Regions from separate parts of the Homo sapiens genome. Here regions 2 and 3 are each linked to region 1. The links come from fine-mapping of genetic effects on gene expression. A gene starts in region 1. Each other region holds a variant in brackets. All regions are shown on one strand. Distances are between the middles of the regions. Region 1 holds the start of GADD45A (growth arrest and DNA damage inducible alpha). Region 2 holds the start of LOC105378780 (a long non-coding RNA gene). Region 3 overlaps LOC105378780 (a long non-coding RNA gene).

What was found. PIP is the estimated chance that this variant, and not a neighbour inherited with it, causes the effect.
Region 2: its variant is fine-mapped to the expression of GADD45A in whole blood (TOPMed, PIP above 0.99).
Region 3: its variant is fine-mapped to the expression of GADD45A in whole blood (TOPMed, PIP 0.94).

What each region holds. Positions count from the first base shown.
Region 1 is chr1:67,683,871-67,686,629 of GRCh38, reverse strand. GADD45A (growth arrest and DNA damage inducible alpha) reads right to left here and starts at 1,429. Exons shown (of 4, transcript NM_001924.4): 1 at 1,092-1,429; 2 at 504-605; 3 at 43-280. The coding sequence starts at 1,135. RefSeq lists enhancers at 1-175, 206-255, 1-458 and silencers at 356-495, 566-695, 1,166-1,325, 1,516-1,575, 1,586-1,765.
Region 2 is chr1:67,561,646-67,564,404 of GRCh38, reverse strand. LOC105378780 (a long non-coding RNA gene) reads right to left here and starts at 2,357. Exons shown (of 4, transcript XR_947474.4): 1 at 2,246-2,357. The variant TC/C (reference allele first, on the strand shown) is at 1,678.
Region 3 is chr1:67,589,491-67,592,249 of GRCh38, reverse strand. It overlaps LOC105378780 (a long non-coding RNA gene), which reads right to left. Exons shown (of 4, transcript XR_947474.4): 4 at 1,853-2,002. Among named protein-coding and RNA genes, the nearest start is that of LINC01702, 69 kb to the right of the region's middle. The variant T/C (reference allele first, on the strand shown) is at 1,619.

The DNA.
Region 1 (2,759 bases):
CCGGGGCTCTACCCTGCAGGCTGCAGTCCCCCAGTCCCTTACCGTCACCAGCACGCAGTGCAGGTCCGGGGGCTGCTCGGCGCCCTCGCTCGCCGCGGGGCCAGCGTCGGTCTCCAAGAGCAGGAGCTCCGCCAGCCGGCCCGGGTTGCTGACGCGCAGGATGTTGATGTCGTTCTCGCAGCAAAACGCCTGGATCAGGGTGAAGTGGATCTGCAGAGCCACATCTCTGTCGTCGTCCTCGTCCGCCGCCAGCAGGCACAACACCACGTTATCGGGGTCGCTGGGGGCAGCGGGCGGGGCCAGTGAGCGCAGAAGCGCGGGCGCCCTCAACCACTGCCCGGGTCCCTGGGGGTCGCCGCCCGGCCCGCTCGCCCCCTCCCTTCCGAGACAGGCAGAAAAGCGACAGGAAGTGGCGCGGCCGGGCGAGGGGCGCCCAGCCAAGGCGACCTCCCGGGCTGGGGCGGGAAGGGGTGCCATGGGGGACGCGCAAGGGCCCCACTTACACGTTGAGCAGCTTGGCCGCTTCGTACACCCCGACAGTGATCGTGCGCTGACTCAGGGCTTTGCTGAGCACTTCCTCCAGGGCATCCCCCACCTTATCCATCCTACACGCGGGCAAGGGCGAGGGGTCCCGTCAGCCCCGGTGCCCTCGGGGCCATCGCCGCCCCCCTCGTCCGGTACCACGCCCCTCCCTCTCGAATGCAAGCACCACCGCGCACCTGGGCTCTACGAAAACCCGGCGCTCCCGCGGCCCCGTCACCCCCCATGACCCCTGCACGCCCAAGGACCGGGCGTCCCGTGAGAAGTCCCGAGAGTGCCCCTGCCACAGGCTGCCAGCCACGGGAGCCGCACGGGCAGCGACGGCCACTGCTGCCCTTTGCAAAGGCCCCGGCGGGGCTCGTTCGGGTTGGGGGGCACGCTCTTTCAGTCCGTGGGAGCTCCACGGAGAGTCCCGAGGGAGCAAGGGCGGGAGTTGCCCTGTGCAAACTTTTTAGCTTCCTCCCCTGCAAGCCTTCCACAGCCCGGCTGCACCGGGGAGCGCGGGGTAGGTAAGAGAAGTTCGGGCCGGAAGAGTCCGCAGGCCGACTCACCTTTCGGTCTTCTGCTCTCCAGCCGAGAATTCCTCCAAAGTCATATTGCAAACTGCAGGTCGCCCAGGGAGAGAGCGCGGCGTGCGGGCTGCTCCTGCCACGGCTAGCGCGCGGGCGCCTGCTTTCTGCACTCACTCACAGGCGCCGCTCCGGCAGCTCAGGCCCTGGCGCTCTCCGGCCGCCCCTCGCCCGCCCGGGCTCCTCCTCCTGTGCCAGCCGCCGCAGCTCCGGCCACCCCTCCCGCCTTGCTTGCTCGCTCGCTCCCCGGACCTCGCCTCGCCACGGGCCGCACGACACTAATTGGGCCGCTGCCTCCCAGCCACTGCCTACCAGCCACTGGAGGACAAAGGGCCCCGCTCTCCGGGGTTATCCTGCCAACCCTCAGCCAACCACCTTCCGCCTCATTTGCATGCAGCTTGGCCATTGGGCTATGCAAATCAGCCTGCTCCAGCAATTTGACCCCAGCTCCTGGAGTCAGGTTGAGAGGAGCGGAAAAGGGAGGAGCCACGCGGGAGGCGAGCCGAGGGGGCGGGGGCGGGGGCGGTGCCGAGAGGGGAAGGCGGGTCCCGCGCGCACTCTTATCCGGTTGGCGGGGACCATTGGGAGTGGGGGGCTTTAGCAGAGGCTAGAGGTGGCCTCAGCTTGGGCTGAAGCAGGCTGCCAAGTGTTTTTCTATAATAGTTGCGGCACTTTTTTCTTATTATCTTTTCATGTCTTTTGTTTTAAGGGGTGGCTATTAAAATCTATTTCCAGGGTTAATGCACTGAAGTCTAGTAATTATTAGTAAGCAGGTTACATTAAAAAAGTGTCTCCAGACCTCCGGGGCAAAGTTTACCTCAGAAGTGTTGTTTATCTAAGTCTAGGCGAAGCTGCTTATTAGCAGTAGTATTATTTCGGTGCCCTGATGGCTGGTTTGATTTATTTTTGGAAAGCTGCAAGGGTTGGAAGCTGAAAAAAGAAAAACCAACCCGTTTGTATTCAGGGATGGCAGGGAACCAAGTTAGAATCTTTTCCACAGAAAGCAGAACGGTTTCCCACCTGCCCGGTGTAACTGGGAAATCGTGAGCTGGTCTGCGTGGGGAGCTGGTGACCACATGTGGGAATCCCTGGCAACCCAGATTCTCCTTTCTCAAAGAGCCTTGCCCAAACAAGGATCCTTCTGGACGCCCACCAGCTGAGAGACAACCATCTGACACCCACACAGCCCACAAGTCTAAATTCAAAATGCTCTCGATATGCCCTAAGCTTCCTTTCCTAACGTATGTATGTCGTTACCTTCCACAGAGAGCCTCCTATGATCTCACTGTGAATTATTGATGTTAGATGCTGAATCATGAAGCTGTAACTATAGGAAGTTTTTAGTCATATGCTAAAATTTCACCTTTGAGATAATGGCAACTTGTAGGTGGAAAGCAGACCTTTAAAACTGCAAATGGTAGTTACACATTTTTGAAAAACAAACTTTAATATATAGACTCTCACTGAGTAGTTCAAAAGTCCCTTCCTTTGTTTTATGGTTTATGCAATAAAAGCAAAAACATTTCTTAAACCTACTGAAGTCATCAAAAGTGGTGAAAATGGCTCCCACATGCTTGCATTCAAAACAGTGCTTGCATTATTAAGGTTGCTGTACAGCCAAAGGTCACAGAAGTAATTTCTGCAAAGGTA
Region 2 (2,759 bases), 120 kb after region 1:
GGGTGGAGTTTTCATGACAGGAAATAAATCTTGTAGAGAGCAAAACAATGAAAGCAAAACTCGTCATATGCCACGTTTAACCAATTTCTTCTCTTGGGTTTCTACTTCACACGGCAGCGTCCGTTTCTGCTTTATTTTCATATCTCCCATAGTTTCCAGTGTGGTTAGAAAACCACCCAGGACCACACAGCTACTAAATGCAGGAACAGGGGTTTGAACCTAGACCATTTGATTCCACACCCTGCCTGCTTACTCCCTGCCCCACAAGGCCTAACCTCCCCTTACAGAATATGCCTTGAGGACAGGCATCACCTCCTAACCTACTCCTAGCCATGGCCAGCACCTAGCAGCTAGCACACAATAATCAGTACCCAGTGATAGACACGATAGGCTTGCTGCCTGACGTTACATGTTTTCATGTAATCTCTTCTCTTCAGAGTTGATTAAGTCAGGTTTGAATTGATGAGAGGCTGAAATATTCATTCATTCATTCATTCAGTGAGTCAGTCACTTATTCATCAAATGTATACTGAGTGCCTTACCTGTATCAGGCACTCTGCTAGGTGCTTGGGGTATGAAAATGAATAAGCAAACTCCCTGAACTCAAAGTGCTTAGGGTCTATGTCAGGGAGGCAGTGCAGGGGTTCTCCATCTTGGATGAACATTTTTTGTGTGGGGTAGGGGAGATGGAGTCTCACTCTTGTCATCTAGGCTGGAGTGCAATGGTGTGATCTCGGCTCACTGCAACCTCCTCTTCCCAGGTTCCAGTGATTCTCCTGCCTCAGCCTCCTGAATATCTGGGATTACAGGCACCCACCACCACGCCTGGCCAATTTTTGTATTTTCAGTAGAGACGGAGTTTCACCGTCTTGTCCAGGCTGGTCTCGAACTCCTGATCTCAGGTGATCCGCCCGACTAGGCCTCCCAAAGTGCTGGGATTACATGCATGAGCCACCACACCTGGCCCCGGATGAACATTTTAATCTCCTGGGGAGCTTTTTAAAAAATGCTGATACCTGAATCTCACTCCAGTGATTCTGATTTAATTGTTATGAGATAGGACCCTCAGATATTTTTCTGCTTGTTTTTTTTTTAAGAATAAACTTTTTACTTAGATGACCTTGAGATTTACAGAATTATTACAAAGATAGTACAGAGTATATAATTCCTGTATACTCCACCCCGCCATTTCTCTTATTGTTAACATCTTACATCAGTGTGGTACATTTGTTACATTTAATGGATCAATATTGATATATTTTTATTAACTGAAGTCTATGTTTTATTTAGAATTCTTTGTTTTTCTTTTAATGTCTTTCTTCTTTTCCAGGGTCCCATTCAGGGTCCACATTACATTTAGTCGTCAGGTCTCCTTAGGCTTCTCTTGGCTGTGACAATTTCTTGGCTTTGGGTTTGTTTGTTTGTTTGTTTGAGTTCCTCAGATTCTAATATATAGCTAGGGTTGAGAGCTTTTGGTCTAGGGACACGAGCATGGAAACTCTAGACATAGGCCATCTGGGTTCCAGTCCTGGCTCGACTGCTTATTAGCTCTGTGACCTTGGTCCAGTCAAGCAACCCCTCGGAGCCTCTATTTTCTCATATGTAAAAAGGAGGTATTAGGAAGAACTACCCCATAAGTTGTGTGAAGATTCATTCACGGCAGTGTTTCCCAACTTT[TC/C]ATGCCATGGCATCCAGAGAAAATACATGGTATTTTTTGTTTGTTTGTTTGTTTTTTGAGACAGAGTCTTGCTCTGTCACCCAGGCTGAAGGGCAGTGGCACCATCTCAGCTCACTGCAACCTCCGCCTCTCAGGTTCAAGCGATTTTCGAGCCTCAGCCTCCCGAGCAGCCGGGATTACAGGCGTGTCCCACCTTTTTGTATTTTTAGTAGAGACAGAGTTTCACTATGTGGCCAGGCTGGTCTCAGACTCCTAGCCTCAGGCAATCTGCCCACCTCAGCTTCCCAAAATGCTGGGATTACAGGTGTGAGGCACCGCACTTGACCAGAAAATAGTATTTGCATTAGGTATTAACATAATTCACAAAACAAATGATAGTGGCATAAATGGATGAATCTACTCATAGCCAGTGGTAAGGTGATGAAAAATTGAGGCACATATGTCACCTGCAGTCCTGGTATGCCATGTTAGAAAGTTCTGCGTTGTCACATGTAAAAGCACTTGGATGCTGCCTAGGCCAGTGTGAACCCTCCATGTTTGCTATAAATAATACAGAAAGAGACAAACCTGTGAACAGCAAGCAGCACTGCAGCTGGGGCCAGTGATAGCGGCCAGTGCCAGGTTCTTCAGTGGCCCATTTGTAGTGACCTAGTGTGTCTCTCCAAAGGGAATGTTCATCTCTTACTGCAGCAGGAAGGAGCTGCTCTCACTTCCTGTTGGACTCTGGGTGACCTGCTAGGGACAAACCCCATGATACTTCAGCACACTGTGAGAAACAAGAGTAGCCAGGCCGCTGGCACCTGAGGCACACAGAAGCTGCCAGCAAATGAAACAGAAGACTCAGGAGCCTCCAACTCCGTGCAGCCCTCCTGCCACCTGCCTGCCTCTCTGGCGCCACCGTCTGGTGTTGTCTGGGTGTTTTATGACCACCAGTACCTGCTAAGAGGCTGATTTTTTTTCCCTGGAGATTTTTTTTCCTTTATGGAGAAACTTAAGGCTTGGGGACATATAATAAAACTAATATCTTGGGAGGAAAACATCAAAATCCACAATAGAAAAAGAAGTTAACACTGTCTGGGCC
Region 3 (2,759 bases), 94 kb after region 1:
TCCCAGCTCACTTTTGCTGGTCCTCCAGTGCAATATGTATGCAGATCTCATAGAGATCTTTGATTATTATTAGCGCTACCACTTTTTCATCAGACACCTCACTCTCAACCCAGCTTAGAGTCATGATTCTTTCTTACAACCACTGCCCTGCAAACTCTGTCCAACAACCTCACATGTCAAGCTCCAGCTTTCCAGCTATCATGCTTGCACCCAAGCAGCTGCATGTTTTTGCAGAATCCACTGATCATGATGATGGGATTCCTTTGACATATATGGACACAAATCTCAAGCCACTGATGGACAAACACTTTCTCAGTATCTCCACTTCCAAAACTCTTCACACCCTCTGTCTTCTCAAACTTCCTGTATCTTCTCTCCTTTCCTCACTTGCAGCTGATGGCCTTCACCTGCAGTTCACTGAGAAAAAGAGAAACAACCACCTAGAAACCACCTCATCTTCTTAGTAACAAAACTTCCAACTTAACTGGCCTGTGCCCACATGCTGGGCCTTTCCTCCTGTTTCTACAGAGGGCACATCCCTGTTCCCCTCTCAGGCCAGCTCGTTTCTCCCATCTTGCCTTCCCCTGGAGAGCACTTCTCTAAGAGTCTCCTCTCTGTCCTGCAGCACTGTTTTCCTTTCTACTGATTCACTCCACTTCCACTTGCCCTCCCTCTCCCTCCACAGAGGGTCAAGAATCCAAAGCCGATGATTTTCCCGTGGAATTGTGTGGGAACTTGTCAGATCTGCTGCAGAAAAAAAGATACCCAAGGATAGATGATCTACATAATCCCTCCCAACTCTGAGCATCTATAGCTTCTGCCTTTATTCTCATGGGCCAATAGTAGTTAGAGTTAGACATTCCTTCATCTTCCTCTACTTTTTTTTTTTTTTTTTTTTTTTTGAGACGGAGTGTCGCTCCATCACCAGGCTGGAGTGCAATAGTGGGATTTCGGCTCAGGCTTGATAGCAGAGGCTTGAACCTCCGCCTCCCGGGTTCAAGCAATTCTCCTGCCTCAGCCTCTCGAGTAGCTGAGACAACAGGCGTGCGCCACCATGCCTGGCTAACTTTTGTATTTTTAGTAGAGATGGGGTTTCGCCATGTTGACCAGGCTGATCTCAAACTCCTGACTTCAGGTGGTCCACCCGCCTCTGCCTTCCAAAGTGCTGGGATTACAGGTGTGAGCCACCATGCCCAGCCCATCTCCCTTCACTTCTGAGTGGAGGTCCCACTCACTTGGCCATGGCATTATGGTGAGGTAGTTTGCTGTGATGCTCATTAATGTGAAAGCCAGCTGGGTTTGGCCACCACTCCTACACTGTCTTGGGTGAGTGTGGGCAAGTTCTTTTATCTCCTGAGCCTTCATTTCCTTTATCTATAAAATAGGGATAATAATAAGATTTACCCTCATAGATGGTAAGGATGGAAAAGGTTAAAACACATAGCGTGCCTATCTTCATGCCCATAGAACCAGAAAAATATTAAGAGATGCCTCCCCTAAGTGGTGGTTAAAGTTATTATTCCCTCCTGTGAGCCCCTGGGTGAACAGTGCATTGTTTAAGGACCTAGGGCAGTTGTGTTTGTGCAGAATTCACTTCCTACCATGAGGCCTGTTGGAT[T/C]TGTAATGGGCAGATTAGAATTTGTGAAAGTATGCAAGAGCCAGGATGTGAGAGGGCTGGATCCCTGGGCAGAACACATAATGAGGCAAACAAGTTATGCTGTTCCTGTTTTTGAGTTGCAGGGAAAGACCAAGGGCTATTTTTAGCTTGGAAGGTTTGGGTTCTGGGAGGGCGCTGCAGCCGTGTTTGTCACATTACGTTTTAACATAATACAGAGTCACCCCACTAAAGGGATCTGTTTCAGGTTGTTTTTATTAATCCAAGTGCCTTTTTTTCAAATTGAGATGTCCAGACTTAATGGGCAGCAAGCAAACAGTACCCAAGAAGCAGATTTAACCTAATAAAAAATAAATCCTTTGTTCTGTCAAGTTTCCATGAGGTATCCTAAAAACAGGAAAAAAAAAGTCATAAATATAGCATTGCCTTCACTTGAGTAAGTTGTTCTTTAGGGAAAAAATATTTTGTGATTATACTATTGTGTGTCTCACAAAAATAAACATTGGAAGTGTATGTTGTGGTTTAAGAATGAAGGCGAGACCTTCCCAAGGAAATTTTTTGAGCCATTTCAGGTGCAGGCAGATGTCTATCTGTCTTCTAAGATGACAACAAGCACAAAACTGTGGGGGAGGGGGCGCCTGGGGCAGTGGGAGATAATTACAGCAGGTACAGATAATTTGGGCTTGGCAGGTTAAAAACAAAATGTTGGGATTTTTATTCCGTTAGGATGGAACAAACAATGTCCTCCAAAATCAGACCCAACACATTCACTCAAGAAACCTTAGTTGAGCGCCTAGGACAGCCTGCTACTAGAGATACAAAAGGGAACAGATAGGATTGGTCCTTGCCTTAAGAGAGCTCATGGCTCAACAGAGAAGATAGATAAGAAAACAGTGTGACGGAAGCTCTGACCCAAGACATATCCTACTAGACCAACTCGACAACTTCCTAACTGCTTAATAATCCTAAACTTCAATTGCTTCATCTCTGACATAAGGCTAAGAATTCCTATTAAAGATCGTAGGTTAAACATGTGCCATGGGCTCAAAACAAACAAAACCCTCCTTTGTCCTCTTTCTTACGCTCCAAAATGAAAAGATTCCAAGAAAGAAGAAAGCATGGGACCCAGAAGTAAGGCACTCCA